Linked DNA regions of Homo sapiens. The protein of the gene in region 2 purifies or fractionates together with the protein of the main gene of each other region. This does not show direct contact. Each region holds a gene or a part of one and is shown on either strand. Other genes may lie near its edges. The genes, in order: HAPLN3, SAXO5, PPP2R2D and LONP1.

The links.
Region 1: the proteins of SAXO5 (region 2) and HAPLN3 purify together in Homo sapiens (affinity purification with mass spectrometry; 2 studies listed by BioGRID and IntAct, with this or other methods). This does not show direct contact.
Region 3: the proteins of SAXO5 (region 2) and PPP2R2D purify together in Homo sapiens (affinity purification with mass spectrometry; 2 studies listed by BioGRID and IntAct, with this or other methods). This does not show direct contact.
Region 4: the proteins of SAXO5 (region 2) and LONP1 purify together in Homo sapiens (affinity purification with mass spectrometry; 2 studies listed by BioGRID and IntAct, with this or other methods). This does not show direct contact.

What each region holds. Positions count from the first base shown.
Region 1 is NC_000015.10:88,878,254-88,886,071, reverse strand, and holds part of HAPLN3 (hyaluronan and proteoglycan link protein 3 isoform 2 precursor), read left to right. Parts: intron 1-4,346; coding exon 4,347-4,715; intron 4,716-5,461; coding exon of another isoform or gene 5,462-5,529; exon of another isoform or gene 5,530-6,343; intron 6,344-6,603; coding exon of another isoform or gene 6,604-6,661; intron 6,662-6,802; coding exon 6,803-7,105; intron 7,106-7,815; coding exon 7,816-7,818. UniProt on the Homo sapiens protein: May function in hyaluronic acid binding.
Region 2 is NC_000019.10:7,500,155-7,507,972, forward strand, and holds part of SAXO5 (stabilizer of axonemal microtubules 5), read left to right. Parts: intron 1-651; 5' UTR 652-668; coding exon 669-1,245; intron 1,246-3,966; coding exon 3,967-4,070; intron 4,071-4,156; coding exon 4,157-4,257; intron 4,258-5,169; coding exon 5,170-5,282; intron 5,283-5,362; coding exon 5,363-5,472; intron 5,473-5,809; coding exon 5,810-6,011; intron 6,012-6,901; coding exon 6,902-6,987; intron 6,988-7,818.
Region 3 is NC_000010.11:131,952,746-131,960,563, forward strand, and holds the end of PPP2R2D (serine/threonine-protein phosphatase 2A 55 kDa regulatory subunit B delta isoform), read left to right. Parts: intron 1-2,938; coding exon 2,939-3,218; 3' UTR 3,219-7,089; downstream 7,090-7,818. UniProt on the Homo sapiens protein: Substrate-recognition subunit of protein phosphatase 2A (PP2A) that plays a key role in cell cycle by controlling mitosis entry and exit. Involved in chromosome clustering during late mitosis by mediating dephosphorylation of MKI67.
Region 4 is NC_000019.10:5,709,694-5,717,511, forward strand, and holds part of LONP1 (lon protease homolog, mitochondrial isoform 1 precursor), read right to left. Parts: intron 4,579-7,818; coding exon 4,490-4,578; intron 3,561-4,489; coding exon 3,441-3,560; intron 2,310-3,440; coding exon 2,078-2,309; intron 1-2,077. UniProt on the Homo sapiens protein: ATP-dependent serine protease that mediates the selective degradation of misfolded, unassembled or oxidatively damaged polypeptides as well as certain short-lived regulatory proteins in the mitochondrial matrix.

The DNA.
Region 1 (7,818 bases), on a different chromosome or scaffold from region 2:
TGCCGAAAATACACATTTTTAACCATTAGTGCAGCACGGGTGCTGACCAGGCTGAATTGATGCTGTCTGCCCTCACAGCCTGAAAGTAGATTCTATTATCATCCCTTCTCATAGATGAGCAAACTAGGCTCAGAGAGTTGATCCAGTTGTCCAGGTCAAACAGCTATTAAAAAGACAAAGCTGAGGGCTGGGTGCAGTGGCTCATGCCTATAATCCCAGCACTTTGGGAGACTGAGGTGAGTGGATCACTTGAGGTCAGGAGTTCAAGGCCAGCCTGGCCAACATACCGAAACCCTCTACTAAAGATACAAAAAATTGGCCAGGCGCGGTGACTCACACCTGTAATCCCAGCACTTAAGGAGGCCGAGGTGGATGGATCACGAGGTCAAGAGATCAAGACCATTCTGACCAACCTGGTGAAATCCTGTCTCTACTAAAAATACAAAAGTAGCCGGGCGTGGTGGCAGGTGCCTTTAATCCCAGCTTCTCAGGAGGCTGAGGCAGGAGAATTGCTTGAACCTGGGAGGCAGAGGTTGCAGTGAGCTGAGATCATACCACTGCACTCCAGCCTGAACGACAAAGTGAGACTCCGTCTCAAAAAAAAAAAAAAAAACACAAAAAACAAAAAATTAGCCGGGTGTGGTGGCGTGCACCTGTAATCCCAGCTACTCAGGAGGCTGAGGCATGAGAATTGCTTGAACCTGGGAGGAGGAGGTTGCAGTAAGCTGAGATCACACCACTGCACTCCAGCCTGGGTGACAGAGTGAGACTCTGCCTCAAAAACAACAACAACAAACTTGTTCCACTTGTTTGTGGAAGGAACGAACCAGATGGCTGGTCTCAGTAATAGCCAGCACCTGCCATGAAGAGCGCACAGCCTGGTTCAGAGACGACACATGAGCCTGCAAGTGCAGTGCTGGGTGTTTCTCACCTTTCCCTCTGCCTTTGAGTAGATGATTGTGCCTGCAGAGGCATTTTCCCTCTTTTGATTAGTCTCCTAGGTCAGCTGTAACAAATTAACACAAACTTGGTGGCTTGAAACAACAGAAATGTATTCTCTCACTGCTTTAGGCACCAGAAATCCAAAATTAGTTTCACTGTGCAGAAATCGAGGTGCGGATAGGACTGTACCTCCTGTGGCTCTTGGGGAGAATCTGTTCTTGCCTTGCCTCTTCCGGTTCTGGTGGCTGCTGGCATTCCTTGGCTGTAGCTGCCTCACTGCAGGCTCTGCCTCCTTGGTCACGTGGTCTTCTCCTCTTTTATATGCAAATCTCCCTCTGCCTCCCTCTAAACAGGTACTTGCGCATTTGCATTTAGGGCCCACCTGGGAAATTCAGGATACCCTCCCCATCTCGACATCCTTAGTTTAACCTCATCTGCAAAGTCCATTTTGCTACATAATTAGGATTTAGGGTATTTTGGGAGGCCATTATTTAGCCCACCACACCCTTTTCCTTCAGAATTTATTTTGTTATACAAGCCCTACTTTATTTATTTATTTATTTATTGAGACAGAGTCTCGCTCTGTCACCTGGGCTGGAGTGCAGTGGCGCGATCTCGGCTCACTGCAAGCTCTGCCTCCTGGGTTCACGCCATTCTCCTGCCTCAGCCTCCCGAGTAGCTGGGACTACAGGCATCCGACACCATGCCTGGCTAATTTTTTGTATTTTTAGTGGAGATGGGGTTTCACCGTGTTAGCCAGGATGGTCTCGATCTCCTGACCGCCTGATCCGCCCGCCTTGGCCTCCCAAAGTGCTGGGATTACAGGCGTGAGCCACCGTGCCCGGCCTACAAGCACTACTTTAATGAGATTTGCGGAATTTAAAAAACTTAAACTTCCTACTCATAGTTTCACTACACTACCAGGCCAACATTTCATTTTTGTCTTTCCCTTTTGTCCCTGAATATGTAAGCAAAGTCATATATAATCCCCCCACCCAGGGGAACCACTGTTAACTTTTTAGGTATCTCTTTCTAGCCTTTTCTTTTTTTTTTTTTTGAGACAGGGTCTCACTCTGTCACACCAGTGCAGTGGTGTGATCTCGGCTCACTGCAACTTCTGCCTCCTGGGCTCAAGAGATCCTTCCACTTTAGCCTCCTGAGTTAGCTGAGACTACAGGCGTGCACCACTGTGCCCAGCTAATTTTTGTATTTTTAGTAGAGATGGGGCTTCACCGTGTTGGCCACGCTAGTCTCGAACTCGTGGCCTCAAGTGATCTGCCCGCCTTGGCCTCCCAAAGTGCTAGGATTACAGGCGTGAGCCACTGCACCTAGCTGAGCCATTCTTTTATGATTTAGAAAACTTTCTCCAACAAAAACCAGCTCATGTCATACATGTGATTTTTGTATTCTCCCTTATCACCTCATAGAATAGAACTCGTTTTCTAAGTCAATGATTGAATGTACATCTACCAGATTATTTTACATGGCTGTATAGTATTTTATCATATGGATGTACATTTTCATTTTATTCAGGTTAAAGCTTCAAAGGTAGTTTACTTAAGAGAGTTGGGAAGAACCAAGGAAGTGGCCCCTAAATGATAGCCCTGCTTCATATTTATTGGACACTTTCTGTGTGCCAGGCATCCTGCCTTACCTGATTTGAACCTTACCACAGCCCTCTGTAGGGACTGTAATTAACCCATTCTACAAATGGGGAAGCTGAGTCTTGACTTCCCTGGATTACACAGCTGGGAAAAGGTGGAACCAAGGGCAAGCCCGAATTGCCTGACTCCAAACCTCTGTACCTACTGCCTCTGCAGAGCAGGACAGCTCTAATCTGAATGAGCCTGAAAGTCCCCTGGAGGCTGGACCCCATTCCCAGAGTCTCTGAGGCACTGGGACCCCACAATGTGCATTTCTGACAAATTCCTGGTGATGCTAATGCTGCTGGCCCGAGGGCCACACTTGGAGACTTCTGCATATGGCAATCTGCTACATTAGGTATAGCTCTTTTTTAGCACGATTCCTCTACAGGGAACCTCCCTGTCTGTCTCCTGCTTACCCATGAGGCTGTCCCCTTGCCTCCACCTTTTTAATTAATTAATTTGTTTTTATTTTGTTTTTGGCAACAGAGTCTTGCTCTCTCACCCAGTTTGGAATGCAGTGGTGCGATCATGACTCACTGCAGCCTTGACTTCTGGGCTGAAACAATACTCCCACCTCAGCCTCCCGAGTAGCTGGGACCACAAGCATCTACCACCATACTCAGCTAGTTTTAAAAATTTTTTTGTAGAGACAGGGTCTCACTTTATTGCCCAGGCTGGTCTCAAACTCCTGGGCTGAAGCGATCCTCCTGTCCTGGCCTCTCAAAGTGTTGGGATTATAAGCGTGAACCACCGTGCCTGGCCCCTGTCCCCACCTTGAGTAAATCAAGCATGTCTTGAAGTCTAGACCCAAGAGAATGAATCAGTGAGGTCCCAACAGGGGCTCCCAAGTTAAAGATGAGGCAGCCTTAGCCTATGAACTTGATTCTTTTGTTGCATGTTGAGTTCTGTGTGTATTTGTAACTCTGAGCCGTGAGCGTAGTCTCCTTTAGAAGTTCTGCCCTTAGCTCAGTAGGCTGCTCCGTATTTGGGAAGAGTTATGGTGGACAGCTGGACCAGAGAGTAAAGCCAGGGCTGTGCTGTCCTCTGGCCAGTGTGGTGGGGAAGGAAACTCCGACGGATCCCTATCAGGGCCACTTGTCCTGGCCATGTACCTCATGTGGGGTGGCTCTTGTTGCCTGCTCCATTGGTTAGATTTTATGCATAGCAAACCACCCAAAACTTAGTGACTTCTTTAGGATGACAGCCATTTGTTTAGCTCATGATTCTGTGGGTCAGCATTTTGGAGTGGGCTCCATTTCTTCAGGTCTTGCGGTTGGGTCTTGCAGATGTGCCTGCCCATGGTGGGCAGGTCAGCTGGGGGCTGGTTGCTGTAGGATGGCCTCAGCTGGGGCGCCCTGTCTCTGTTCTGTGTATTCTCTCATCCTCTAGCAGGCAAGCCTGGCCATGTGCTCATGGTGGCTGGCAAAGTCCTAAAAAAAGAGTGGAAGCAGCAAGGCCCCCTGGGACCTATGCTCAGAGCAGGCATGATGGATAACAGTCACTTCCAAGGCATTCAGTTGGTCAAGCAAGTGGCAAGGCCAGCACAGATTCAAGGGGGTGGGGGAATAACTGTCATCTCTTGATGGAAGGAGATGCAAAGTCACATTGCAGAGCATGTGGATACAGGGAGGGGTGGAGCATGGTGGCCATTTTTGCAATCTGAGCCTGTAGGAGCCGTGGATGAGGGTGTGCGGTGGCCCTTGCAGGGGTACAGATGTGCTTCAGCAGGTCTCATCTGCACCCTGTCTCTCCCCCAAGACCTCCTTAATGGAGTGAAGCTGGTGGTGGAGACACCCGAGGAGACCCTGTTCACCTACCAAGGGGCCAGTGTGATCCTGCCCTGCCGCTACCGCTACGAGCCGGCCCTGGTCTCCCCGCGGCGTGTGCGTGTCAAATGGTGGAAGCTGTCGGAGAACGGGGCCCCAGAGAAGGACGTGCTGGTGGCCATCGGGCTGAGGCACCGCTCCTTTGGGGACTACCAAGGCCGCGTGCACCTGCGGCAGGACAAAGAGCATGACGTCTCGCTGGAGATCCAGGATCTGCGGCTGGAGGACTATGGGCGTTACCGCTGTGAGGTCATTGACGGGCTGGAGGATGAAAGCGGTCTGGTGGAGCTGGAGCTGCGGGGTGAGATGCTAACGGGGACTGGGTGACACTGGGACCTGAGAGCAGAGGGGAGAGGACCAGAGAAAACATCCAGACCTCTGTGCTTTAGACATTTAAAAGTACTTAATTCTCAAAACAACCCACATGGAAGCTACTGTTGTGACCCCCATTTTACAGGTGAGAAAACTGAGGCACAGAGAGGTCAAGTAACTTACCTAAGGTCACACAGCTTGTAAACGACAGAGCTGGGGTCTGAACCCAAGCACCCAGCCTCTAGAATCTGTTCCCCTCTACCCGCTGTAATTCACATCTCATTCAGAGAGAGGAAAACCAGAGCTGGTCCCACAGCTTATTAGAGACAGAGCTGAGATTTAAGCAAGGTTAGCGGGTAACACAAGCGAATGAGGCAGCCCACTGTGAGACGATGGGAGTGGTGGGGACTGGGCACACTCCTGAGCCCTTGTCCTGTGCCCAGGGAGCTCCCACACTACTCAGGCCCAGCTGATGATGCCACGCCAGAATGCAGACCCCACTGCCAAATTTTCTGGCTTGACAAGATAAGCTTATATTTTTATGTGAGATCTCCTGATTTTTATGTAAAAACCTCCTTTTTAAAAACAAAACAAAACAAAAAACAAACAAAAAGCCCCCCCAAAACCAAAAACAAAAACCCAGTGCTGTCCAAACCAGCCACACCCTGCAAGCCGGATCTTGTATGTGGGGTCCCTGTTTGATCTTTAATTTGTATTTACCTTCTCTGTCTCTAGGATGGGGCTGTGTGTCCTCACATCTCTCCCACATGTTAGGGAGGCAGTTCGGGGATAGAGGAAGGTGACCTGACTTTAGCCCCAGCCCGTCCCAGCTATGACATGTGGGTAAATGCCTCATCCCCCTTAGAGCCCTGGGCCTCTCAGGTGTAAAATGGGGTATCACAATCTTTCCTCCTTTACCTCCCTCAGAGGCAATGAGGATAAGATGTATGTCCTTAAAATGCGTTCTCTGTCTTTGCCACCAGTGTCCACATGGCTTACATGGTGGCTCAGAGGGGCCGCATTCCTCATTCTTGAAGTTGGGGTGGCAGTGGAGTTGGGGAGAACCTGCAAGAGTCATTGGTCTGGGGTCTGCAGGGGCAGCCTAGAGAAACAGGGAGCCCTCACCCCATTCCCGGGGCTTCAAGGGCTAGGAATTTGGGGTGGAACCAGGCATGAAATAGTCCCCCTGCAAACACACGTAGAGGCTGCAAGCTGACTGTCAGGGCCCATGGGCTTCTCTGCCGCCCAACCTGGCTTTGCCCAGGTGCCTGGCTTCCGGCCCTGGTGAGATCGGAGGTTTGGGGCTCAGGCTGTTCCTGGGTCCTTGGCCACACGGAGGAGATTCCAAAGTGTCCTTCCCAGACCCCTAGGGTCACCTCCACTCCCTAAGGTTTCATTGACTTGGTAGAGACTACATCTCAGAAGTTTAAAAACTTTTTATTAGAGTAAAATTTCAAACACGAACATATCTTTTCAGGGCCTGTGGCCTCTATCAGACCCTGACCACAAGGAGAGAAACCGCCTGCCCCAGACCTCCCTGCCCTTGAGCCTCCTTTATGGAAGGCCCTTCCCCAACCCTCTCCCCACGGCCTCTAGGGCCTCTCCTTCTCCTGAAAATCATCTGCCACACGTGGAAAGTTCCTTGCATTTTCCTAGGAAATTTCCACATTCATAATAACGTAGACGATCGGGTCCCAGCTAACGAGTGGGGAGCTGGGAGTCAAACCTGGCCCCTAGAGCCCAAAGCCCGGGCCTGTCTGGAGAAGATGGCACAGCCTCACTGGGGGTCTGGCGACAGCCTTGCGGATTAGGTTGGGGACATTGTTGGGGACATTAATGGACTAATTAATTACCTTAACTCATGGATGTTTTCTGAGTACTGCTGTGAACCAGCTGAGTCCCAGGAGAGAGGCGGCAACGGACAGGAGGTCAGAGGTTTGCTGAGTTTTTCTGAGGGATGGTGTATGTGTGTGTGTTGCAGGCAGCACATGTCCCAGTGAAGGTGGGAGGAGAGCGGGGTGTCCAGCCAGCTGGGCCCCTGGCCACCCCCTAAGCTCCTCTTTCCTTCCCCTGCAGGTGTGGTCTTTCCTTACCAGTCCCCCAACGGGCGCTACCAGTTCAACTTCCACGAGGGCCAGCAGGTCTGTGCAGAGCAGGCTGCGGTGGTGGCCTCCTTTGAGCAGCTCTTCCGGGCCTGGGAGGAGGGCCTGGACTGGTGCAACGCGGGCTGGCTGCAGGATGCCACGGTGCAGTACCCCATCATGTTGCCCCGGCAGCCCTGCGGTGGCCCGGGCCTGGCACCTGGCGTGCGAAGCTACGGCCCCCGCCACCGCCGCCTGCACCGCTATGATGTATTCTGCTTCGCTACTGCCCTCAAGGGTGAGTGGAATAGCCAAGCGCGGGCCTGTGGGTTTGGTGGCCACCTGGGACCTGTGAGAGGGCAGCTTCTGGGGAGCTCTGGCCCCCTCTGCTGGCTCTGCTGGTACTGCCACCTGGAGGCCAAGAGCACCAGCCACCCTAGAAGCAGCATCTGGTTGAGTTTTGAGTGCTTTGCTGCTGCTGCGTTATGCAGGGCATAAATCATTGGTTTCTTCATTCATCAAATGTTTACTGAGTGCCTACCATATGCTGGGGCCTAGACTAGGCTCTCGGGAATCACAGACGAATAAAACACAGCCTGTCTTCACAAAGCAGCTCATTTCGTAGGAAGATGAACAAGTAAAAACAGAAACTGGTTCAGTGTCATATGCCAAGCCCTTGGAAAAGTGTCTGACACATAGTAGGTGTTCAGTAAATGACCGAATGGGCAAGAGACTCTGACTGGTCCAGCCTAGGTGGGGTGCCCACCCACCTAAATAGGGAAGGGTGGTGGGGGAGTGCAGACATGTCTGGAGGGACCTGGGTTCTATGGCAGGTGGGACAGAGCTCTCTGGGACAGGGTGAAGATTAGAAAGTGTTCTCTGCAGATGCCTGCAGTATGGTAGCTCCCTGGGCTCAGACGGGTCTTTGGGGCTGGCATCTCTGCAGACCCCGCTGTGCTCTCTGGCTGCCCCCTGCGCTGTACGGCACTCACGCCCCCTTTCCCCCAGGGC
Region 2 (7,818 bases):
TCAATTCCACAAAGGCAGGGATCTAGGTCTATTTTGTGAACTAATGTTAGTTCCCCACCCCTGCTGGCCTCCAGGCCTAGAGTAGGGACAGAAATCATTTATGTGGTGCCTACTGTGTGCCAGGCCTACAGTAGGCACCACATGAAAGATTTTTTTTTATGTTTTGAGACGGAGTCTCGCTCTGTCGTCCAGGCTGGAGTGCAATGGCACAATCTCGGCTCACTGCAACCTCTGCCTCCCGGGTTCAAGCGATTCTCCTGCCTCAGCCTCCCGAGTAGCTGGGACTACGGGCGCCCACCACCACTCCAGGCTAATTTTTTTTAAAAATTATTTTTAGTACAGACAGGGTTTCACCACGTTGGCCAGGCTGGTCTCGAACTCCTGACCTCAGGTGATCCACCGGCCTCGGCCTCCCAAAGTGCTGAGATTACAGGCGTGAGCCCCCGCGCCCAGCCATGATTATTTCTGTCTCTGCTCTCGCTGGGGGAAGGCACAGAAGCTGTACCAGTTTCCCGTGATGTCCCCAGCCTCCAGCTCAGTGCTTGGCGAACAGAAAGGAGTCAAAGGCAGCAGAAAGGAGTCAAAAGCAGGAGTCAAAGGCAAGTGCCCCAATGGGCACTTGCTCAGTCCCTCATCTCCACCCTCTCGCAGGTGGCTGGTGTCCCGCGATGGCCACAGGCGCCCTCCTGCCGTGCTCGCGCCCGTGCCCGATGTCCCGGCTGGACTTCCTCAAGGCCTCGCACTTCTCGCTGGGGCCTGACCTGCGGCTGCACGAGGGCACCATGCGCACCACGTCGCACCGGGACTTTGCCTACCCGGCTGCCACCCGGGAGCCGCCGAGCCTGCAGCCGCCGCCCGCGCTGCTTTTCCCAATGGACCCGCGCTGGGACCGGGAAGAGCGCGTGTCGGAGGCGCACCGCGCGTTCCCGCCGCCATCCACGCCGCCGTGGGAGCTGCTGCAAGCGCAGGCGCGGGAACGCACGCTCGCCATGCAGGCCGGCAACCTGCACCTGCACGAGGACGCGCACGCCGGGATCGGCCTCTCCAACGCGCACGCCGCCTACGGCTGGCCCGAGCTGCCGGCGCGCACCCGAGAGCGGATCCGCGGCGCGCGCCTCATCTTCGACCGCGACTCCCTGCCTCCTGGCGACCGCGACAAGTTGCGCATCCCGCCCACCACGCACCAGGCGCTCTTTCCACCCCACGACGCGCGCCCGCAGCCTCGCGCGCCCAGTTGCCACCTCGGTGAGCGCGCGCCCGGGCTGAGTGGGCGATTTGCTTCACATTGTGGTTCTCAAACAGGGGCAAGGGCTCTTCATTCCCCTTCCCCCAGGGAACATTTGGCAATGTCTGGAAACGCTTTTGGTGGTCAGGACTTGGGGGGTGGCCGGGCGCGGTGGCTCAAGCCTGTAACCTCAGCACTTTGGGAGTTGGAGGCGGGGGGATCGCTTGAGGTCAAGAGTTCGAGACCAGCCTGGCCAATATGGAGGAACCCCGCCTCTACTAAAATACAAAAATTAGTAGGGCGCGGTGAAGGGTGCCTGTAATCCCAGCTACTTGAGAGGCTGAGGCAGGAGAATCGCTTGAACCCAGGGGGCAGAGGTTGTGGTGAGCTGAGATTGTGCCACCGCATTCCAACCTGGGAGACAGAGCAAGGCTCCGTCTCAAAAAAAGGAAAGAAAGAAAGGAAGAAGAGAAAGAAGAAAGAGAGAGAGAGAGAGAGGAAGGAAGGAAGAAGGAAGGAAGGAAAACAAGACAGAGAGGAAGGGAGGGAGGGAGGGAGGAAGACTTGGGGGGTGGCGAGGCCACCCGCGGTGGCTCACGCCTGTAATCCCAGTGCTTTGGGAGGCCTAGGCAGGAGGATGTCTTGAGGCCAGAATTGGAGACCAGCCTGGGCAACATAGCGAGACCCATCTCTACAAAATAAAAATTTTATTATTTTTTTATTATATATATATGTGTATATATTTTTTTGAGAAAGTGTCTCTGTCACCCAGGCTGGAGTGCAGTGGCATGATCTCGGCTCACACAGACTAAATCTGCCCAGCTCAAGTGATCCTCCCACCTCAGCCTCCCAGGCAGCTGGGACTGCAGACACGCATGTCACCAGGCCCAGCTAATTTTTTGTACTTATTTGTAGAGATGCAGTCTTACTATGTTGCCCTGGCAGGTCTTGAACTCCTGGGCTCAAGCAATCCATCTGCCTCGACCTCCCAAAGTGCTGGGATTATAGGCATGAGCCACTGAGCCCAGCCCTTACAAAATAAAAATTTAAAAAGATGGGCAGAGGTGCTACCAGCAGACAGCGGGTAGAGGCCAGAGATGCTGCCAAGTATCCTCCCAGCCAGCCCCAAATGTCAATTACACCAAGCCTCAGAAACCCTGGAACCACCTTGAGCATCAGTTTCAGCATCAGGAGGGTGGACATATCCTCTGAATCTGTCCAGAGTGGTGCATGGTTGGCAGAAGTCATGAATGCCAGTTTGGGGTCAGACAAATCAGCTAAGTTCCCCAGCTGTACACCCTCCTCCCCACACCCCCCAGCCTTACCACCTTAGTAGCTGTGTGAGTCTGAGGGAGTTAACCTCTCCAAGCCTCAGTTTCCCCGTCTACAAAATGGGTGCAATCACAGGGCCCAATTCACAGGAGCTAGTAAAGCTGAATGTGTATGGTGTGTCTGGTGCAGAGAGCACTTAACAAAGAGTAGCCAGCATTCGTGTAATTTTCCAATTCTGTGACTCCAGGGACCCTTTGGGTGAACATTACTGGTCAGAGGCCCCTAAGATGGGCTCAGGGATTGTCAAACCCTGATTTGACATTTAGTTGTGATTCCTAGTTTCTGTGATTTCTGGCAAGTTGCTTAACCTCTCTGAGCCTCAAGGAGGCTGTAACAAGAGAAATGATACCAGGTCCAAGAAGAAGTTGCGGCCGGGTGCAATGGCTCATGCCTGTGATCCCAGCACTTTGGGAGGCTGAGGCAGGCGGATCACTTGCGGCCAGGAGTTGGAGACCAGCCTGGCCAATGTGGTGAAACCACATCTCTACTAAAAATACAAAATTCAGCCTGACCTGGTGGTGCGTTCCTGTAATCCCAGCTAGCTACTTGGGAGGCTGAGGCAGGAGAATCGCTTGAACCTGGGAGGAGCAGGTTGCAGTGAGTCAAGATTGTGCCACTGCACTCCAGCATGGGCCACAGAGCGAGACTCCATCTCCAAAATAAAAGAGAGACGGAGAGAGAGATACTCAGTCCTGGAAAAAGATGCAATGCACTTAACCTATGTGTGGCTCAATATAGTCCTTGGTAGATATTATTGGGGTTTTTTTGTTTTATTGTGTGTGTGTGTTTTTGAGACAGAATCTCACTCTGTGGCCCAGGCTGGAGTGCAGTGGCACGATCTCGGCTCACTGCAACCTCCACCTCCCAAGTTCAAATTATTCTCCTGTCTCAGTCTCCTGAGTAGCTGGGACTACAGGCACATGCCAACACACCCGGCTAATTTTTATATTTTTGGTAGGGATGGGGTTTCACCGTATTGATCAGGCTGGTCTTGAACTCCTGACCTCAGGTGATCCACCTGCCTTGGCCTCTCAAAGTGCTGGGATTACAGGCATGAGCCACCACACCTGGCTGTATTTTTAAATTTATCATTATTTTTTAGAGATGAGGGTCTTACTATGTTGCCCAAGCTGGTCTCCAGCTCAAGATGGGCTCAAGCCCATCTTTGCACTTCAGCCACCTGAATAGCTGGGATTACAGGCATGGGCCATTGCACCTGGCTTTTAGTATAATTTATTTTATTTTTATTTTTATCTTTTGGTGTTTGCCAGACAGCTCTCAGTCTACACTGTTCAGAATGGCCCAGCTCCCCTTCCCAGGCAAGAAATAGAATTCCTTCCAGAGGGCTTGAGATGGCAGGGAATCTCAATCTCTCTCTCTCTCCCCCCATCCCCCTTGCCTATCCTAAGGGGGCCCCAACACCCTCAAGTGGGACTACACGAGACAAGATGGGACTTCCTACCAAAGACAGTTCCAGGCCCTGCCAGGCCCACCTGCCTTGAGGTGTAAGAGGGTAAATTGAGGCTGTGTTGGGGCTGCAGGCGGGGGCAGAATTGGGGGCTGGGTGGTTTGGGCCTTCCTATCCCTGTCTGCCCACAGGCCTCCTCCGGAGTGGAGCTGGGAGACTGCAAGATCAGCTATGGATCAACGTGTTCGGAGCAGAAACAGGCCTACAGGCCCCAGGATCTGCCTGAAGATAGGTATAAAGGGGCCACTGCGGGCACGGTGGCTCATGCCTGTAATCCCAGCACTTTGGGAGGCTGAGGCAGACAGATCATGAGGTCAGGAGCTCGAGACCAGCCTGGCCAATATGGTGAAACCCTGTCTCTACTAAAAATACAACAATTAGCCGGGTGTGGTGGTGGGCGCCTGTAATCCCAGTTACTCCGGAGGCTGAGGCAGGAGAATCGCCTGAACCCGGGAGGCGGAGGCTGCAGTGAGCCAAGATTGCACCACTGCACTCCAGCCTGTTCGACAGAGCAAGACTCCATCTCAAAAAAAAAAAAAAAGTGGGGGACGAGGGGGCACTGCCTTCCCACCCAGATGGGACAACTGGCTTTCAGTAGCATGTGGTATTTGCCCCTTAGGGCTTTAGGGCCCATACTCTGCCTCTGAGGTCTCTGTCACTGGTAGCCAAGGTGCACTATTGTGCCAGATCTCTCATTATCAGAGCCCCACAGCTTGGTCATTAGGAAACCCTGCTCCCCTCCCTCTTTCTGGGGGTTGCAAGGCCCCAGATGGATCCACTTTAGCTTCTTCTTCTTCTTTTTTTTTTTCTTTTTTTTTTTTTGAGACGTAGTCTCGCTCTGTTGCCCAGGCTTGAGTGCAGTGGCACAATCTCAGCTCACTGCAACCTCCGCCTCCCGGGTTCAAGCAATTCTCCTGCCTCAGCCTACCGAGTAGCTGGAATTACAGGCATGTGCCACCATGCCCGGCTAATTTTGTATTTTTAGTAGAGATGGGGTTTCACCATTTTTGCCAATCTGTTCTCAAAAGCCTGACCTCAGGTGATCCACCCACCTCAGCCTCCCAAAGTGCTGAGATTACAGGGGTGGGCCACCATGCCCAGCCCACTTTACCTTATTCTTGATGGAATAATACACTACGTACAGGTATGACAAGGCCCAGGCCACAGCCCACATCCACTGTGTAAATATCCGTCCTGGTGACGGCCTCTTCCGCGACAGGACCACCAAGGCCGAGCACTTCTATGCCAGGGAGCCAGGTGAGAGCCTGAGGCCCGCCCCGTCCCGCCTCCCACCGCAGCCTCCCAGGGCAGCTCTGCACCTGTTCCGCTTCTGGCAGAGCCTTTTGTTCTTCACCACGATCAGACTCCGGAGTCGCACATCCTGAAAGGAAATTGGTGCCCCGGCCCCGGCAGTCTGGACACCTTCATGCAGTACTTCTACGGCCAGGTGAGCAGGAAGAGCGAAAAGGCGGCAGGGAAAAGGGCTTCCCAGACAGAGCAAATAGCAGGTGCAGAAGTCCCAAAGTGGGAGTGAGCTTGATATGTATGCAGGAATCTCCTGGATGTACTTGAGTGATCTAGGGCGAGTCACTTAACCACTCCGATCCTCCTCCGTGGCTCCTTCTGTAAAATGAGATAAGAGTACCAACTCCCAGTGCTACCAGGTGGGGCCCAGAAGGGGTGAGGGAGCTGTCCAAGGTCACACAGAGCCCACCTCCTCCCTCCCCCCCGGGCCCGGGGACCTCTCGGACGCCGGAGCTTTCAAATGCCATGTGGTCCTACAGCCGCCACCCCCGACCCAGCCACCCAGCCGCCACGTGCCTCATGAGAAATTGCAGAGTCATGTGACCCTAGGGGAGCCAAAGCTACTCAAACGCTTCTTCAAGACCACCATGGGCTCGGACTACTGCCCTTCAGAGTGGAGACAGGTGCAGAAAGCGCCCAACCTCCACTTGCAGCAAAGCTACCTGCCGCGGGGCACGGGCGGTGAGCGCTCCCGGGAAGCCCCGCCCCATGGAGCCCCGCCCCGGGAAGCCCCACCCCCGAAAGCCCCGCCCCCATGGAGCCCCTCCCCATGGAGCCCCGCCCCCACGGAGCCCCGTCCCGGGAAGCCCAGCCCTGGAAGCCTCGCCCTTGCCACTGCTCTGGCCCCGCCCCTAACCAGCCCTCCCCTCCCCCGGCTTCATCCCCTGAAAGGCTAAATCCCACCCCCAATTGACCAGAACCCCAACTCTGCTCCTGGATAATCCCGCCCCTTCATGGCCATGCCTCTCCCCTTCATAACTCCATCCTTCTGGACACGGCCCTGCCCCTTCTCCATCCTCTCTTATCCAGTCTTAACTCCTCTTCCATTGTCAGACTCTGGCTCCGCCCCTGACCCGCTAGCCTGCCCTGCCTGGCCCTGCCCACAGACTCATCTGGCCCGGCCCCGCCCCTGACCTTCTTAGCCCTATGCCCTAGCTCTGGGTTCCTCCCCTAGCTCCTCCGTCCTCCTCCAGCTCCTCCCTCTTCCCAAGCTCCTCCCCCTTTCTCTGGCTCCTTCCTTTGTCCCAGCTCCTCCCTCTTTCCCAGTTCCTCCCTCTTCCCCAGCTCCTCTCTCCTCCCCTGGCTCCTTCCTCCTCCCCCACCTCCTCCCTCTTCCCCAGCGCCTACCTCTTTCCCAGCTCCTCCCTCTTTCCCAGCTCCTCCCCCTTCCTCTGGCTTCTCCCTCCTTCTTTGGCTCCTCCCTCCCCCCTCTCCTAATCCATTTTTCTCCCCTGGTCAACTTCAGCGCTGGCCTGGGCTTGGCTCTTGAACCCTTCCCTTGAACTTCACCACACCCTCAGCCCCGCCTCGGCCCACAGCCCTCACTCAGCCTCCCCAACCTGAATCTCCAGAATTCGATTTTTTAACCATGAACCAGAAGATGCTGAAGCCACACAGAACACCTCCGGCCCCGGTGACTGAAGAGATGCTACAGCGGGTAAGGGAGGCGGAGGGGAGCCACCCATCATTAGGCAACCCCCACATTGGTGTAGAGTTATCTCAGGACGACTATGCTGTCACCCTGTCTCAGAGTTAGTGATCACCCAGGCTCGGGGGCATCTTAATATCCCTTCAGCCTGAAGATCATCCCTAGCTTGGCCGGGTGCAGTGGTTCACGCTTGTAATCCCAGCGCTTTGGGAGGCCGAAGCAGGCGGATCACCTGAAGTCAGGAGTTCGAGACCAGCCTGGCCAACATGGTGAAACCCCGTCTCTACTAAAAATACAAAAATTAGTCAGGCATGGTGGCGCATGCCTGTAATCCCAGCTACTAGGGAGGCTGAGACAGAATTGCTTGAACCAGGGAGGCAGAGGTTTCAGTGAGCCAAGATCGCACCATTGCACTCTGGGCTGGGCAACAGAGCAAGACTCTGCCTCAAAAAAAGGAAAAAAAAAAATAGAGGTCATCTCTAGCTCACCCCCCAGGGTCATGTCAAGGTCAGCTCAGGGGCATCTTTGCACCACCACCACTGTTATACCCAAGACGAGGGTTAATTCAGAGCCACCCAGGATCACCCCAGCCCTGGAGTCCTTCCAGGGACACCCCTGGTTTCTCTCCATCTTCTTATCCAGCTCCTCATTCAGCCCAGCCTGGGGCCCTTTTTGCCCACCTCTCCCCAGAGTTCAACCTCCCCAGCCTTTGATGCTCTGGCTCTGTCCCTAGGCGGCCCCACCTTACCCCAGGCTTCACCTTCTGAAGGGCTAAATCCCACCCCAAATTGACCAGAACCCCAACTCCGCCCCTGGACAATCCCGCCCCTTCGTGGCCAA
Region 3 (7,818 bases), on a different chromosome or scaffold from region 2:
TGCGGGTGTGCGGGGGGTTCACTGTCTTAGTGACTTGCGGGTGTGCAGGGGGTTCACTTAGCAGTGACTTGCGGGTGTGTGTGTGGGGTTCACTGTCTTAGCAGTGACTTGCGGGGGGGGTCCCTGTCTTATCAGTGACTTGCGGGTGTGTGTGGGGGGTTCACTGTCTTAGCAGTGACTTGCGGGGGGGGTCCCTGTCTTATCAGTGACTTGCGAGTGTGCGGGGGTTCACTGTCTTAGTGACTTGCGGGTGTGCAGGGGGTTCACTGTCTTAGTGACTTGCGGGTGTGCAGGGGGTTTCACTGTCTTAGCAGTGACTTGCGGGTGTGTGTGGGAGGTTCACTGTCTTAGCAGTGACTTGCGGGGGTTCCCTGTCTTAGCAGTGACTTGCAGGTTTGCGGGGGTTCACTGTCTTAGTGACTTGCGGGTGTGCGGGGGGTTTCACTGTCTTAGCAGTGACTTGCGGTTGTGTGTGGGGGGGTTCACTGTCTTAGCAGTGACTTGCGGGGGGGTCCCTGTCTTAGCAGTGACTTGCAGGTATGCGGGGGTTCACTGTCTTAGTGACTTGCAGGTGTGCGGGGGTTCACTGTCTTAGTGACTTCCAGTTGTGCGGGGGGTTCACTTAGCAGTGACTTGCAGGTGTGTGGGGGGTTCACTGTCTTAGCAGTGACTTGCGGGGGGTCCCTGTCTTAGCAGTGACTTGCAGGTGTGCGGGGGTTCACTGTCTTAGTGACTTGTGGGTGTGCGGGGGGTTCACTTAGTGACTTGCAGGTGTGCAGGGGGTTTCACTGTCTTAGCAGTGACTTGTGGTTGTGTGTGTGGGGGTCACTGTCTTAGCAGTGACTTGCGGGTATGCGGGGGTTCATTGTCTTAGTGACTTGCGGGTGTGCAGGGGTTCACTGTCTTAGTGACTTCCAAGTGTGCGGGGGGTTCACTGTCTTAGCAGTGACTTGCGGGTGTGTGGGGGGGTCACTGTCTTAGTGACTTGCTGGTGTGCGGGGGTTCACTGTCTTAGTGACTTGCGAGTGTGCGGGGGGTTCACTGTCTTAGCAGTGACTTGCGGGTACATGGATAGTCACTGTATTTTTTATTCCTCTTGATATATTTCAAATATTGCAAAATACCCTTAGATTACATATCCCCAAGAACATCTAAAAGCGTTCCCAGTAACATTTGCTTAGTCCATTCACTCTCAAAAACACGCCAGTCTTCCTACCTGGAAACTTCTGTTGAGGGATGCGATGAAGGGGAGTGAGGCGTTTCAGTGCTGCCTCAGCCCAATCCTGATTCTCCGTGTGGCAGCGCCTTCTTGTGTTCTAGGTCGCCCCACAGAACCAGTTATGTGCTTACGCCTGTGTCTCTGTCTGTGCTGTTCCCTTCCTGGGCCAGCACCAGGCTGCTGGGCAGCGCCCTTGTTTGCAGTGTGGAAACACCCACTCTGGGGCTGGCACTATCTGTCGAGAATTTAAAAGTGATCATAAATCTGTATGAAAGCTGATGTGCTTTTCGTTATTACCATGCACCAGCAATTCCAGTCAGTGTCGGCCATACATCATCTGTCGTCTGTGTTCTGAATAATGGTTACTGTTGAGTTTTAATAACATAAATGTAAGCTTCAGATTCACACATTCTTATTACTTACCCTTTCGTAAACATTGTGTTTTATGTGGAAACTAATTTGGGGAACCCCCAGTCAATGGCCCTCACGTGCCAACTTGGCTGCATACCCCTGTTCCAAGACCACGTGCACAGCTTGGCATTGCTGGAGGGCGCTGGGCACACCTTGTGTCTCCCGCCTCTGTGGCGCTGTGGGCTCCTGGATGGAAGCAGGAGATGGGAAATAAACATGGATCGCTGAATGCAGTTTCTCTTCTCTGAGTTCGTCTTTTTTTTTTTTTTTTCCCCTGCTTTGAAGTTTTAGACAAGGTCAGTCAGACACTAGGTATTTGCCAGCAGCCAGGGTCAGTGCTGGGCCATGGAAGGGAAGCGGCCCGCTTCTTTCTCATGGCACCTTGAAGACGCGCCAGCGTGAAAGGCCTCTCACCGCGCATGACCATGGGGGCAGGACGTGAGGGCGCGGGTTAGTGTCAAAATAGGAAGAGGAGGCGAGCTTCAAGGACGGCTGGAGAAACCAGAAGGGCATTGTTTGAACACATCTTTCATCAGAAACTGGACTCATGAAGCCATGGGTCAAATCATGGCAGCGTTTGCATCATTCAGCTATTTTTCTGTCATTTTTGTAGAAAATGTAAGATTGCAGAGGTTTTTACCAGTATTATGAAGTTATATCATGAGGATGTGTGCGGTAGTAGAATTTTTCGACAGCAGAGACATTTGAAAGCCATTACAGTTGATCTTGAAGAAACAAAAGCATGGACGGTATTGTATTGTCTGGAATGTGTGTGAAATGCAGTTGTTCTAAAATTCTGCCACACTTTGCCCAGTGGATTTTTACTATTTCTATCCGTTGCCTCATTTGAAAGAAACTTTTTGAAATTAATAGAAAAGCAGTTTAACTCCAAAGAAACATTGACAGATATGACTAGTAACTGTTGAACATGATAAGGATTATGTTCAGGTCATTATGGATCATTGACAAATTGCAGAACATAAGGCTTAAAAATAAACTGTGCTGTTATTCATGAGTGAGATAAATAGGTGGGGTTGTTTCAAAAAATACACTAATGTTAAAAGTGTGACTCCATTATTTTGTTTCTCCTGTGACATGGATTCTTACTGACATGATTATAGATAAAGCTCGGTACACATTTTCACTGCATTTCTCTTCTGCCCATTGTGATTGATCATTCCTGATTTCTGAAAGTAACTGGGTTGTGGGGGAGGGTGGCGTGCGCTGTGCACCCCAGGGGTGGGGTCTGAGTCCTTGCTGCCGCTCCCCCCACTGAGGAGTGCTGCTGTCTGCTCTTGTTTTGAACAGCGCCATCATGACCGGGTCCTATAACAACTTCTTCAGGATGTTTGATAGAGACACGCGGAGGGATGTGACCCTGGAGGCCTCGAGAGAGAGCAGCAAACCGCGCGCCAGCCTCAAACCCCGGAAGGTGTGTACGGGGGGTAAGCGGAGGAAAGACGAGATCAGTGTGGACAGTCTGGACTTCAACAAGAAGATCCTGCACACAGCCTGGCACCCCGTGGACAATGTCATTGCCGTGGCTGCCACCAATAACTTGTACATATTCCAGGACAAAATCAACTAGAGACGCGAACGTGAGGACCAAGTCTTGTCTTGCATAGTTAAGCCGGACATTTTTCTGTCAGAGAAAAGGCATCATTGTCCGCTCCATTAAGAACAGTGACGCACCTGCTACTTCCCTTCACAGACACAGGAGAAAGCCGCCTCCGCTGGAGGCCCGGTGTGGTTCCGCCTCGGCGAGGCGCGAGACAGGCGCTGCTGCTCACGTGGAGACGCTCTCGAAGCAGAGTTGACGGACACTGCTCCCAAAAGGTCATTACTCAGAATAAATGTATTTATTTCAGTCCGAGCCTTCCTTTCCAATTTATAGACCAAAAAATTAACATCCAAGAGAAAAGTTATTGTCAGATACCGCTCTTTCTCCAACTTTCCCTCTTTCTCTGCCATCACACTTGGGCCTTCACTGCAGCGTGGTGTGGCCACCGTCCGTGTCCTCTCGGCCTTCCTCCGAGTCCAGGTGGACTCTGTGGATGTGTGGATGTGGCCCGAGCAGGCTCAGGCGGCCCCACTCACCCACAGCATCCGCCGCCACCCCTTCGGGTGTGAGCGCTCAATAAAAACAACACACTATAAAGTGTTTTTAAATCCAAACAGAAGTATTGTCTTTTTATTTAATTTTATTGCATAGAATGAAGTTATGCAGGGTTCTTCTTTGGAACTAACTGTTTGAGAAATGTGTGTCCTTCTTTGGCAGCGTGGGGGTATGTGTGCAGCATTTCTGTCCCCAAGCTGCTGCCCGCTGTGTTTCTGTAGAAGTAGCCCATCAGATACACCAGGTAAGGTCTGGGAAAAGCCAGAACCGAGGCCACCTCTGAGAAAGAAAATTGCAAGGAAGAACCAAAATTGCTGCCATCCAGTAAGCCTGGTTTAAAGTAGCTTCAAATTCACTACAGTTGAAGAAATACGTGCTTGCTTTCTAAGGCTTTTGAAAAAGCACTTTGGGGAAAGTATACTTTTTAAACATTGCTAAAATTACATGCATGCTAAATTTCATCCTGCATTTCAAGCCAGCAAAATTAAGCAATTTTAATTACACGATGCCACCAGTACGTTGGTTTATTTTCAAAGTAGGATCTTTGATACCAGAAATCAAGATTTTCCAAGACAAATAATACAGAGCTGTACCAATGCTGAGTGACCAGAGCTTGCTTCCGTGGGATTTAACACACGCCCACTACGTGTCCCCGAGGGGAGTGGGGAGTCGGGCTCCCGTGCCCCTGTGGAGATGGAGGTGTGTGCTGATCCCCCGTCCGCCTGTGGAGATGAAGGTGTGTGTTGATTCCTCCTGCTGCTGTGGAGATGGAGGTGTGTGCTGATCGCCCGTCACCCTGTCTAGATGAAGGTATGTGCTGATTGCCTGTGCCCCTGTGGAGAAGGAGGTGTGTGCTGATCCCCTGTGCCCTGTGGAGATGGAGGTGTGTGCTGCTCCCTCGTGCCCCTGTGGAGATGGAGGTGTGTGCTGATCCCCCATCCCATCCCCCTGTCTAGATGAAGGTGTGTGCTGATTCCTCATGCCCCTGTCTGGATGAAGGTGTGTGCTGATCCCCCGTCCCCCTGTGGAGATGAAGGTGTGTGCTGATCCCCCGTGCCCCTGTGGAGATGAAGGTGCGTGCTGATCCCCCATCTCCCTGTGGAGATGAAGGTGTGTGCTGATCCCCATCCCCCTGTGGAGATGAAGGGATATGCTGATCCCCTGTCCCACTGTGGAGATGAAGGGGTGTGCTGATCCCCCGTCCCCCTGTGGAGATGAAGGTGTGTGCTGATCCCCCATCTCCCTGTGGAGATGAAGGGGTGTGCCAATCCCCCGCGCCCCTGTGGAGATGGAGGCGTGTGCTGATCCCCATCCCCCTGTGGAGATGAAGGTGTGTGCTGATCCCCCATCCCCATGTGGAGATGAAGGGGTGTGTTGATCCCCTGTCCCCCTGTGGAGATGGTGTGTGCTGATCCCCGTCCCCCTGTGGAGATGAAGGTGTGTGCTGATCCCCCATCTCCCTGTGAAGATGAAGGGGTGTGCTGATCCCCCGTGCCCCTGTGGACATGGAGGCGTGTGCTGATCCCCCGTCCCCCTGTGGAGATGAAGGTGTGTGCTGATCCCCCATCCCCATGTGGAGATGAAGGGGTGTGTTGATCCCCCGTCCCCCTGTGGAGATGAAGGTGTGTGCTGATCCCCGTCCCCCTGTGGAGATGAAGGGGTGTGCTGATCCCCCATGCCCTGTGGAGATGGAGGTGTGTGCTGATCCCTCGTGCCCCTGTGGAGATAGAGGTGTGTACTGATCCCCTGTTCCCCTATCTAGATGAAGGTGTGTACTGCTGATCCCCCGTCCCCCTGTGGAGATGAAGGTGTGTGCTGATCCCCCATCCCCCTGTGGAGATGAAGGGGTGTGCTGATCCCCCGTCTTCCTGTGGAGATGAAGGTGTGTGCTGATTCCTCATGCCCCTGTGGAGATGGAGGTGTGTGCTGATCCCCCATCCCCCTGTGGGGATGAAGGTGTGTGCTGATCCCCCATCCCCCTGTGGAGATGAAGGGGTATGCTGATCCCCCGTCCCCCTGTGGAGATGAAGGTGTGTGCTGATCCCCCATCCCCCTGTGGAGATGAAGGGGTATGCTGATCCCCTGTCCCCCTGTGGGGATGAAGGTGTGTGCTGATCTCTTGTCCCCCTGTGGAGATGGAGGTGTGTGCTGATCCCCCATCCCCCTGTGGAGATGAAGATGTGTGCTGATCCCCCGTCCTCCTGTGGAGATGAAGGTGTGTGCTGCTTCCTCGTGCCCCTGTGGAGATGGAGGTGTGTGCTGGTCCCCCGTCCCCCTGTGGAGATGGAGGTGTGTGCTGATCCCCCGTCCCCCTGTGGAGATGGAGGCGTGTGCTGATCCCCCATCCCCCTGTGGAGATGAAGGCGTGTGCTGATCCGCCATCCCACTGTGGAGATGAAGGCGTGTGCTGATCCCCCATCCCCCTGTGGAGATAAAGGTGTGTGCTGATCCCCCATCCCCCTGTGGAGATGAAGGCGTGTGCTGATCCGCCATCCCACTGTGGAGATGAAGGCGTGTGCTGATCCCCCATCCCCCTGTGGAGATGAAGGCGTGTGCTCATCCCCCATCCCCCTGTGGAGATGAAGGCGTGTGCTGATCCGCCATCCCACTGTGGAGATGAAGGTGTGTGCTGATCCCCCATCCCCCTGTGGAGATGAAGGTGTGTGCTGATCCCCGGTCCCCCTGTGGAGATGAAGGTGTGTGCTGATCCCCCGTCCTCCTGTGGAGATGAAGGCGTGTGCTGATCCCCCGTCCCCCTGTGGAGATGAAGGCGTGTGCTGATCCGCCGTCCCCCTGTGGAGATGAAGGCGTGTGCTGATCCGCCATCCCCCTGTGGAGATGAAGGCGTGTGCTCATCCCCCATCCCCCTGTGGAGATGAAGGCGTGTGCTGATCCGCCATCCCACTGTGGAGATGAAGGTGTGTGCTGATCCCCCATCCCCCTGTGGAGATGAAGGCGTGTGCTGATCCCCGGTCCCCCTGTGGAGATGAAGGTGTGTGTTGATCCCCCATCCCCCTGTGGAGGTGAAGGTGTGTGCTGATTACTAATCCACATGGGCAAGAACAGGATGTCCGTCATTACCCTGAATCAATGCTAACACAGTGCCACTTGAGTTCACATTAAGTTAGAAATTGAGAATCTAAAGGTACCTTTATTTTAACTAAAAAATAATTTATATACTGTATATTGATTGTGACACAATTTACAAAGTCTGAGGTGTGGAACAGTTATTTAAGCATTAGTCAACCCTGGTCCTTAAGACAGTTCTAGTAAAATGGGATTGTATATATTTGTTCAACTATTTTGACCAAAAAGTTCAATAAATTTTAAATGTTTAACTGGATTTTCACTGCGTATTTGGACACCCTTTTCCATCTTCCTCTAGAATGTATTTCCCACTAAATAGCCCACCTCCTCCACCCCCAGGGCAGAGCAGAAGGTGCAGCCCAGGCGGGTCCCGTGTGTAGAGGTTCCACGTGGCACTGCTGCTCCCGTGGAACTGCCACTGCCTTGAGGTCTGCGGCGCACGTTCCCTGGAGGTGTCGTCACCTAGCTCTGGGGCGCCTGCGGGGGAAGCCACCTGGCCAGCAGTCCTGTCCGTTTCTGTGGGTTCTCCCCAGTGCAGTCTTGATGTTCTGAGAGGCGCTGGCAATTCCACGCACCTATGTCCGCAAAAAGCAGGATCCATTCACTTTAGAGAAGTGCCCTCAACAGGCGCGGAGGAAGACGTGCCCTCAACAGGTGCGGAGAAAACTTCTCTTTCCTGCTTAAAGTAGAACAGTGTCATCAGCTTCTGAAGGTTAATGCTGAGCACAGTTTTCATTGATGAGGATTCTGGGCCCGTGGTTCAGGTGGAGGTTTGCTGCTCTCTGGGCTGATGACCCGGATTCCATGAACACACTTTCTTCGTAAGTGGATTTAACGTGCCTTTTTTGAAAGAAAAATGGAGCTCCTATGAACCAGTTTATGATGCCCTCGTGGACAGACTCAGTCTGATTTTGGAGGCCACACGACTGGCAGGTGTGGCTGGAGACTGCAGCATGTGCGTGTCTGTCTGTCCTGTGTGGAGCCA
Region 4 (7,818 bases), 1.8 Mb from region 2:
GGTCAGGAGATCCAGACCATCCTGGCTAACACGGTGAAACCCCGTCTCTACTAAAAAATACACAAAAAATTAGCCGGGTGTGGTGGCGGGCACCTGTAGTCCCAGCTACTGGGGAGGCTGAGGCAGGAGAATGGTGTGAACCCGGGAGGTGGAGCTTGCGGTGAGCCGAGATCACGCCACTGCACTCCAGCCTGGGCGACAGAGGCTCCATCTCAAAAAAAAAAAAAAAAAAAAAAAAAAAGAACAAGTTCGCTGCCCCTAAGGGGTCTTGCCAGTTCTAATCACATTTGTAAGTTTGGTCGCTGTCTTCCCCCTGTTGCAAGATTCTCACAGGGAATGCCCCAATGCTGAGCTGCCCAGGACAGTGTAGCCGCTGGTGGCTGTCTGAATTTTTTTTTTTTTTTTTTGAGACAGAGTTTTGCTCTTGTTGCCCAGGCTGGAATGCAATAGTGCAATCTCGGCTCACCGCAACCTCTGCCTCCCAGGTTCAAGCAATTCTCCCGCCTCAGTAATCCCGAGTAGCTGGGATTACAGGCATAAGCCACCACACCTGGCTAATTTTTTTTTGTATTTTTAGTAGACACGGGGTTTCTCCATGTTGGTCAGGCTGGTCTCAAACTCCTGACCTCAGGTGATCCGCCCACCTCGGCCTCCCAAAGTGCTGGGATTACAGGCGTGAGCCCACCGTGCCCGGCCTGAATTTTTTTATTTTAATTTTTAGATACAGGGTCTCACTCTGTTGCCCAGGCTGGAGTGCAGTGATGCGATCACAGCTCACTGCAGCCTCAATCTCCTGGGCTCAAGCGATCCTCCCACAGGTTAGACCACTGGTGTGTGCGACCATGCCCAGGGATTTTATTTTTTTTGTGGAGACAGGGGTCTCAATATTGCCCAGGCTGGTTTTGAACTCCAGGGCTCAAGTGATCCTCCTTCCTTGGCCTCCAAAAGTGTTGGGATGACAGGCATGAGACACTGTACCCAGCCAATAAAATGTTCCATTCTGTTCCTTGGCCACAGCAGCTCTACTTCAAGTGCTCAATACTCACAGGTGGCCGGGCACAGTGGCTCACGACTATAATCCCAGCATTTTGGGAGGCTGAGGTGGGCGGATCACCCGAGGTCAGGAGTTTGAGACTAGCCCGGCCAACATGGTAAAACCTCGTCTCTACTAAAAATACAAAAATTAGCCGTGTGTGGTGGCACGTGCCTGCAATCCCAGTTACTTGGGAGGCTGAGGCATGAGAATCACTTGAACCTGGGAGGTGGAAATTGCAGTGAGCTGAGATCGTTCCATTGCACTCCAGCCTGGGTTGACAGAGCCAGACTCTGTCTCAAAAAAAGAAAGAAAAAAAAAAACCTCGCAGGGGTAGTGGGGCAGGATAGAAGTGCTGACCTCAAGAACCCAGGTGGGCCTGTGGACAGGACTTTCCACCCCTGCCAGCGCCCACAGCAGACATCACCAGTTGCTCACAGCACTTCCCCCTAGGCCCTGCAGCAGCCTGGGGAAGAGGCTGATGACACCAGGCACACAGGTAAGGAGCTGACACGCTTCAGGCCTTTGGTTAGCTTCGCTGACTGTCCCTACAGCGGGAGGGCAGGTGGCACCGCCAAGAGCCTGCCCACCTCGGAAGCTGACTCCTTGTGCCACCAGGCAGGCAGGACGGCCTAGGTTGGGGGATCAGGGTGGCCAACAGGCTGTTTCCTGTCCTGCAACCACTGGTACCAACCTCCCAGGCTTGGTGGGAAGAAGCCAGGGCTGGAAGGTGTCTTGGTAACCGCTGGAGGCTTTGGCACAGGGGACACGGGCTGGGGCTGGACCTGGGTTCCAACCCTGTCTCCTTCCTGAGCAGCTACAGGCTCCAGCGAATTTCCTGTGCCTCTCCCATCCCAGAGTCTTCCGAAGACCTCTGGGAGGAAAAGCACCCTCTATGTTCCATTAGAATTGAGTTCCAGACAGGCCAGACCCTTCCTAAGGGGCTCAGGGTGGGAGATGACTCTTCGGAGAGGCCGCAGGAACGGCTCAAGGGAGCCCGTGGGGGAGGCAGCTGTGGCCGCCCTGCGTGACGCACGGACTCACTTTCACCTCCTCCGTGACCTGGAAGTCCTCGTGGACAACGTTCTCTACCTCCACCATGAGCACCTCAGCCGGGAGCTCAGGGGTGGGCTCCATCGCCAGCTCCGCCGGGTGCCTGGCGCTCAGCTCGTCCTCCGCCTCCTTCTTGCCCCGCTTTGACTTCCTGCGGGGCTTGTGCTTGTTCTCCGCCTCCGGCTCCTCGGGCTCCACCTCCAGCTGTCTGCTGATATGGACTCTGACACGGGAGCAAGGCAGGTGTGAATCAGCCGCTGAGGCTGGGAGCTGGACCCGGCTGAGGCCTCCCTGGTGGCACAGGTGGTCCAAGGGTCCCGCTGAGCCCAGACCTCTGGAGCCACAGGGTGGCTACAGGGTCCTCAAGCTGGAGACGTGAGCCGCTTTCTCGGGGCCTCCCAACCAGTGTCCCCTCCACCCCTTAGACTCCAGCCAGATTCAGGCATTCCCTGCATCCCACGCCAATGCATCACTGTCCCCATCCTAAGTATCGTGGATAAGCTGCAGTGACAAGCCCCAGGGCCTCCTGTCGAAAACGGTGTCAGCCTGGCCGGGCACAGGCTGGTCTCCAAGACTCTGTGCCCTGGACTCAGCTCATAGCAGCTCCTTCCTGTTGTTCAGGTCTCGATTTCAAGGACACCATCGCAAAGACTGTCCCCAAGCACTTCACAAAAGCTACCCACCTCCACCTCTCACGCTGTCTGCGTCTCCCCTCAGAGCACCTGGCACCACCTGAACTCAGGGTCTCGCTCTGTTGCCCAGGCTGGAGTGCAGTGGTGTGATCATAGCTCACTGCAGCCTTTACCTCCTGGGCTCAAGCAATCCTCCTGCCTCAGCCTCCCAAGTAGCTGGGACTACAGGAACACGCCGTCACATCTAACTTTTTATTATTTTTTATAGAAACAGGGTCTTGCTGTGTTGCCCAGGCTGGTCTCAAACTCCTGGGCTTAAGCGATCCTCCCACCTCAGCCTCTTGCGTAGCTGTGACCACAGGCATGAGCCACCACATCCAGCTAATTTTTCTACATTTTTTGCAGAGATGGGATCTCGCTACGTTGCCCAGGCTGGACTCAAACTCCGGGCTCAAGCGATCCAATTGCCTTGACATCCCAAAGTGCTGGAATTCCAGGCAGGAGTCACCATGCCTGGCCCTGCAGCTCACCCCTTTCTGAGACAGGAGGGGTCCAGAGGTGACATGTCTCACTCTCACCCCCAGCTCTGGCCTCAGTGCTAGTGAGAAAGCCGCTGGGCTGACGGACAGGGCAGAGGCTGATGCTGGGGCATAAGGCATCCTGGCTGGTCTCCCGCGTGGTACTCTGCCCCCACCTCCCACTGTCCCCCGCCAGCCACCCACCTTCTGTGTCCCATGACGATCATGCGCAGCTTGTCCCCAAGGTCCTGCATCTCATGGATCTGGGCAAACGTCCCCGTGTGGTAGATTTCATCCAGGCTCTCGACCACATCCGACTCATTGCTGTGGGAGAAGAGCACAGAGGAATGTTGGAACATGGCTTTCATGCTAGGCAGGATGTCTCTGGCTGAGATGGAGGAGGGAGAGAAAAGAAACGCCCCTACCAAATGCTACTGAAAACCAAGAGCGGCCTCCTTGGCTCCCGCAGGAGCTCCAGAGCCTAGGGGAGCTTCTGCCAGGCCAGGGCTGCCCCAGTGGTCACAGGACCGGGTGGGTGGCTCCTCGCTAAGTCAGCCACAAAGACATGGTCCAGGTGGGACTTTGATGAGTCTCTTCTATGCTATCACAGAGCCTGCTTCGAATGCATGCATGGAACTCTTTTTTTCTTGAGATGGAGTTTCGCTCTTGTTGCCCAGGCTGGAGAGCAATGGTGTAATCTCAGCTCACTGCAACCTCCACTTACTAGGTTCAACCGATTCTCCTTCCTCAGCCTCCTGAGTAGCTGGGATTACAGGTACCTGCCACCACGCCTGGCTAATGTTTTGTATTTTTAGTAAAGACGAGGTTTCATCATGTCAGCCAGACTGCTTTGGAACTCCTGACCTCAGGTGATCCACATGCCTCAGCCTCCCAAAGTGCTGGGATTACAGGTGTGCGACCCCACGCCCGGCCCATGGAACTCATTTCTACATGGAGCCACATCTCCGAGCAGCTAGCTCGACTTTCAGGTAGCCTCATGGAGCATTTCATCACTAAGAGTCCCTGAAGTTAATTTCCCCCGTATCTTAACAATGCATGAAGTTTAGTACTACAAGCTGAGTTCTCAGCCCAGGCTGAAAAGGTAGCCTGCGTGGCTTCTGGCCTTTATTCTGGAGGTCTTCCCTGGTTTCCTCGGGGTCAGGGGTCAAAGGTGCAAAGTACAGAGTAGGACTTGTGGTGAGCTGGACTCTAGGGCACCGTCAACAAGGGAATGAAGGAAAAATCACACTTACCTGTCATCTCTCTTTAGAAAGACGCCGACATAAGGCTGGGCGAGACGAACTTTCCTTCTCAGCAGCTCAACCAACTTCTTATTTTTAACCTAGCATGACAATGACCCCAAAGTGAAATGCAGAGTAGATTTTTTTTTTGAGACAGAGTCTCATTCTGTTGCCCTGGCTGGAATGTAATGGCGTGATCTCAGCTCACTGCAACCTCCACCCCCACTGAGTTCAAGGGATTCTCCTGCCTCAGCCTCCTGAGTAGCTGGGATTACAGGCATGCACCACCACACCTGGCTAATTTTTTTATTTTTAGTAGAGATGGGGTTTCACCATATTGGCCAGGTTGGTCTCGAACTCCTGACCTCAGGTGATCCACCCACCTCAGCCTCCCAAAATGCCGGGATTATAGGCGTGAGCCACCAAACGCAGCACAGGGTAGCTTTTCTTTTTTTTTTTTTTTTCTGAGACGGAGTCTCGCTCTGTCACCCAGGCTGGAGTGCAGTGGCATGATCTCAGCTCACTGCAACCTCCGCCTCCCGGGATCAAGCAATTCTCTGCCTCAGCCTCCTGAGTAGCTGGGATTACAGGCGCCCGCCACCAGGTCCGGCTGATTGTTTTGTATTTTTAGTAGAGATGGGGTTTCACCATCTTGGCCAGGATGGTCTTTAACTCCTGACCTCGTGATCCACCCACCTCAGCCTCCCAAAGTGCTGGGATTATAGGCGTAAACTACCACGCCCGGCCTCCCAGGGTAGCTTTTGTAGCTGACATTTTTTGACAGCAGAGCCGCTCTAACGCTGTGTAGATTATTCTCTGGGGACATGCTGATCCGCATCCTGGATACTAATCAACATGGTTTGGGAACGCCTAAACAAAAAAAAAAAAAAAAAAAAAAAAGTGCTGGAGGCCAGGAGGCTGTGGTGGTGAATACAGTGAGCAGAACTGACCAGCTGGATTCTTCTTAGCGGTTTCCCCACTCCCAAAGGAAATTCAAAGTAGACGAATGGTCAGAACCCAGAAATTGATTTAACATCCAGCTTCAAAGGGGATGTCCAGGGCAAACTGTCTTGGTTTGAAAATCAAAACCATTCTGCTTTTATTAATGTCAGAATAAACATAAGTAATTTAAATGTGACCCACTCCAGAGATTGATAACTTCCTTTTTTTTTTTTTTTTAATAAAGTTTCAGGCTGGGCGCGGTGGCTCACGCCTGTAATCCCAGCACTTTGGGAGGCCGAGGCGGGCAGATCACAAGGTCAGGAGATCGAGACCATCCTGGCTAACACGGTGAAACCCCGTCTCTACTAAAAATACAAAAATTAGCCGGGCGTGGTGGCGGGCACCTGTAGTCCCAGCTACTCGGGAGGCTGAGGCAGGAGAATGGCGTGAACCCGGGAGGCGGAGCATGCAGTGAGCCAAGATCACGCCACTGCACTCCAGCCTGGGCGACAGAGTGAGACTCTGTCTCATAAAAAAAAAAAAAAAAAAAAAAAAAAAAAAAAAAAAGAAAGTTTCACTCTGCCACCCAGGCTGGAGTGCACTGGTGCAATCTCGGCTCACTGCAACCTCCACCTCCCAGGTTCAAGCGATTCTTCCAACTCATCCTACCACATAGCTGGGGTTACAAGCACACGCCACTGCACTCGCTAATTTTTGTATTATTAGTAGAGACGGAGTTTCGCCATGAGCCACCATGCCTGGTTCCTCCAATTTTCATTGACAGTTACTTCCTTATCACATCATATGCTGTTCATTAATGATCAAGACCCCCAGGATCACAGCACATTCTCAACGGCAGGTTCAGGGCTAATGATGTCTTCTAAGAAGCATTTGAAGGCGCAAGGAGCTCACCTGATTTCTTTCAAGCCTTTGTTAATTCACTGGACAGACCCTGATTAAAGGTAATGGCCTGGCTAGCCTGGTAATGGTAGCTCATGCCTGTAATCCCAGCACTTTGCGGGGCTGAGGTGGGAGGATCGCTTGAGCCCAGGAGTTTGAGACCAGCCTGGGTAACACAGTGAGACCCCATCTCTATTTTCTTTTTGAAGTTTTTAATTCTTTATTATATAATAAAGTTAAAATATACATATATATATATATATATATATATATATATATATATATATAGTAATGGCCCTCAAACTTTTGCAGGCACCAGGATGACCTGAAGGACTTTAAGCAGCTCACTGCTGGGCCCCACCCTTGGAGTTTTTGATTCAGTTCTAGGGTGGGTCCAAAAATCTGCATTTCAAACAAAAGAGCATCACATGATGCCGATGCTGCTGGTCCACAACCATCCTTTGAGAGCCAGTGTTTTGACTCACTCCCTAACACAGGCTCTTAACTTGTGGTCCAGAAATTCCTGACACTATAGATACATAATTTTTTTTTTTTCTGTTCCCAGAAAAAAAAAAGTCAGTAACATCTGACAGGAGGGTGTGTGACCCACTGTTATAAGTAAAATGTTTGTTTAGAGACAGAACGCTTGTACCTCTGTACTGTAAGGAAAAATTAGCATTTGGACAAAAAGTTTTCTTAGCAAGACAATTTTACTTTCTGAAGAAAGGGTGCTCCTCGCAGATGGAACAATGGCGAGAGCAGAGCACACCTGAACAAAGGAGGGAAGCAATTTTTTTTTAAGACAGAGTCTTGCTCTGTCGCCCAGGCTAGAGCGCAGTGGAGCGATCTCAGCTCACTGCAAGCTCCGCCTCCTGGGTTCACACCATTCTCCTGCCTCAGCCTCCCGAGTAGCTGGGACTACGGGCGCCCACCACCACTCCAGGCTAATTTTTTTGTATTTTTAGTAGAGACGGGGTTTCACCTTGTTAGCCAGTATGGTCTCGATCTCCTGACCTCGTGATCCGCCCACCTCAGCCTCCCAAAGTGCTGGGATTGCAGGCGTGAGCCACCGCGCCCAGCCCACGAAGTTAGTTTTTAAAAGAAACTAATACTTCTAACACTTATGATTTATTCTTTAATACCCACCAAAAATTAAGAGCCATTGTTCCTTACTCAAAAGTTGCTAATAGGAGAGAAGCTTCTAGAGCAAGTTGGCCAGACAAGTCAAGTACAAACTGAAGAGTAAATCAAGCTTTGCTAACAATTTCAGAAACATTTATTGGGTCCCAAAGAAGTTGCCTCCCAATTTCCCCTCTGCCAACAGCTGATAGCTGCATCCTTGGCATCTGCCTCCTGGCCTTGGCAGGATCCATTTTTATGATTTACAATGCATCATCAACCAGAAATACAATGAGAACCACCTGCCAGTCTCCCAAATACTATCTGCAGCCACTCATTTAACTCTCCTGGCTAGCTCCACGTGGGCCGTCTGAACTCTC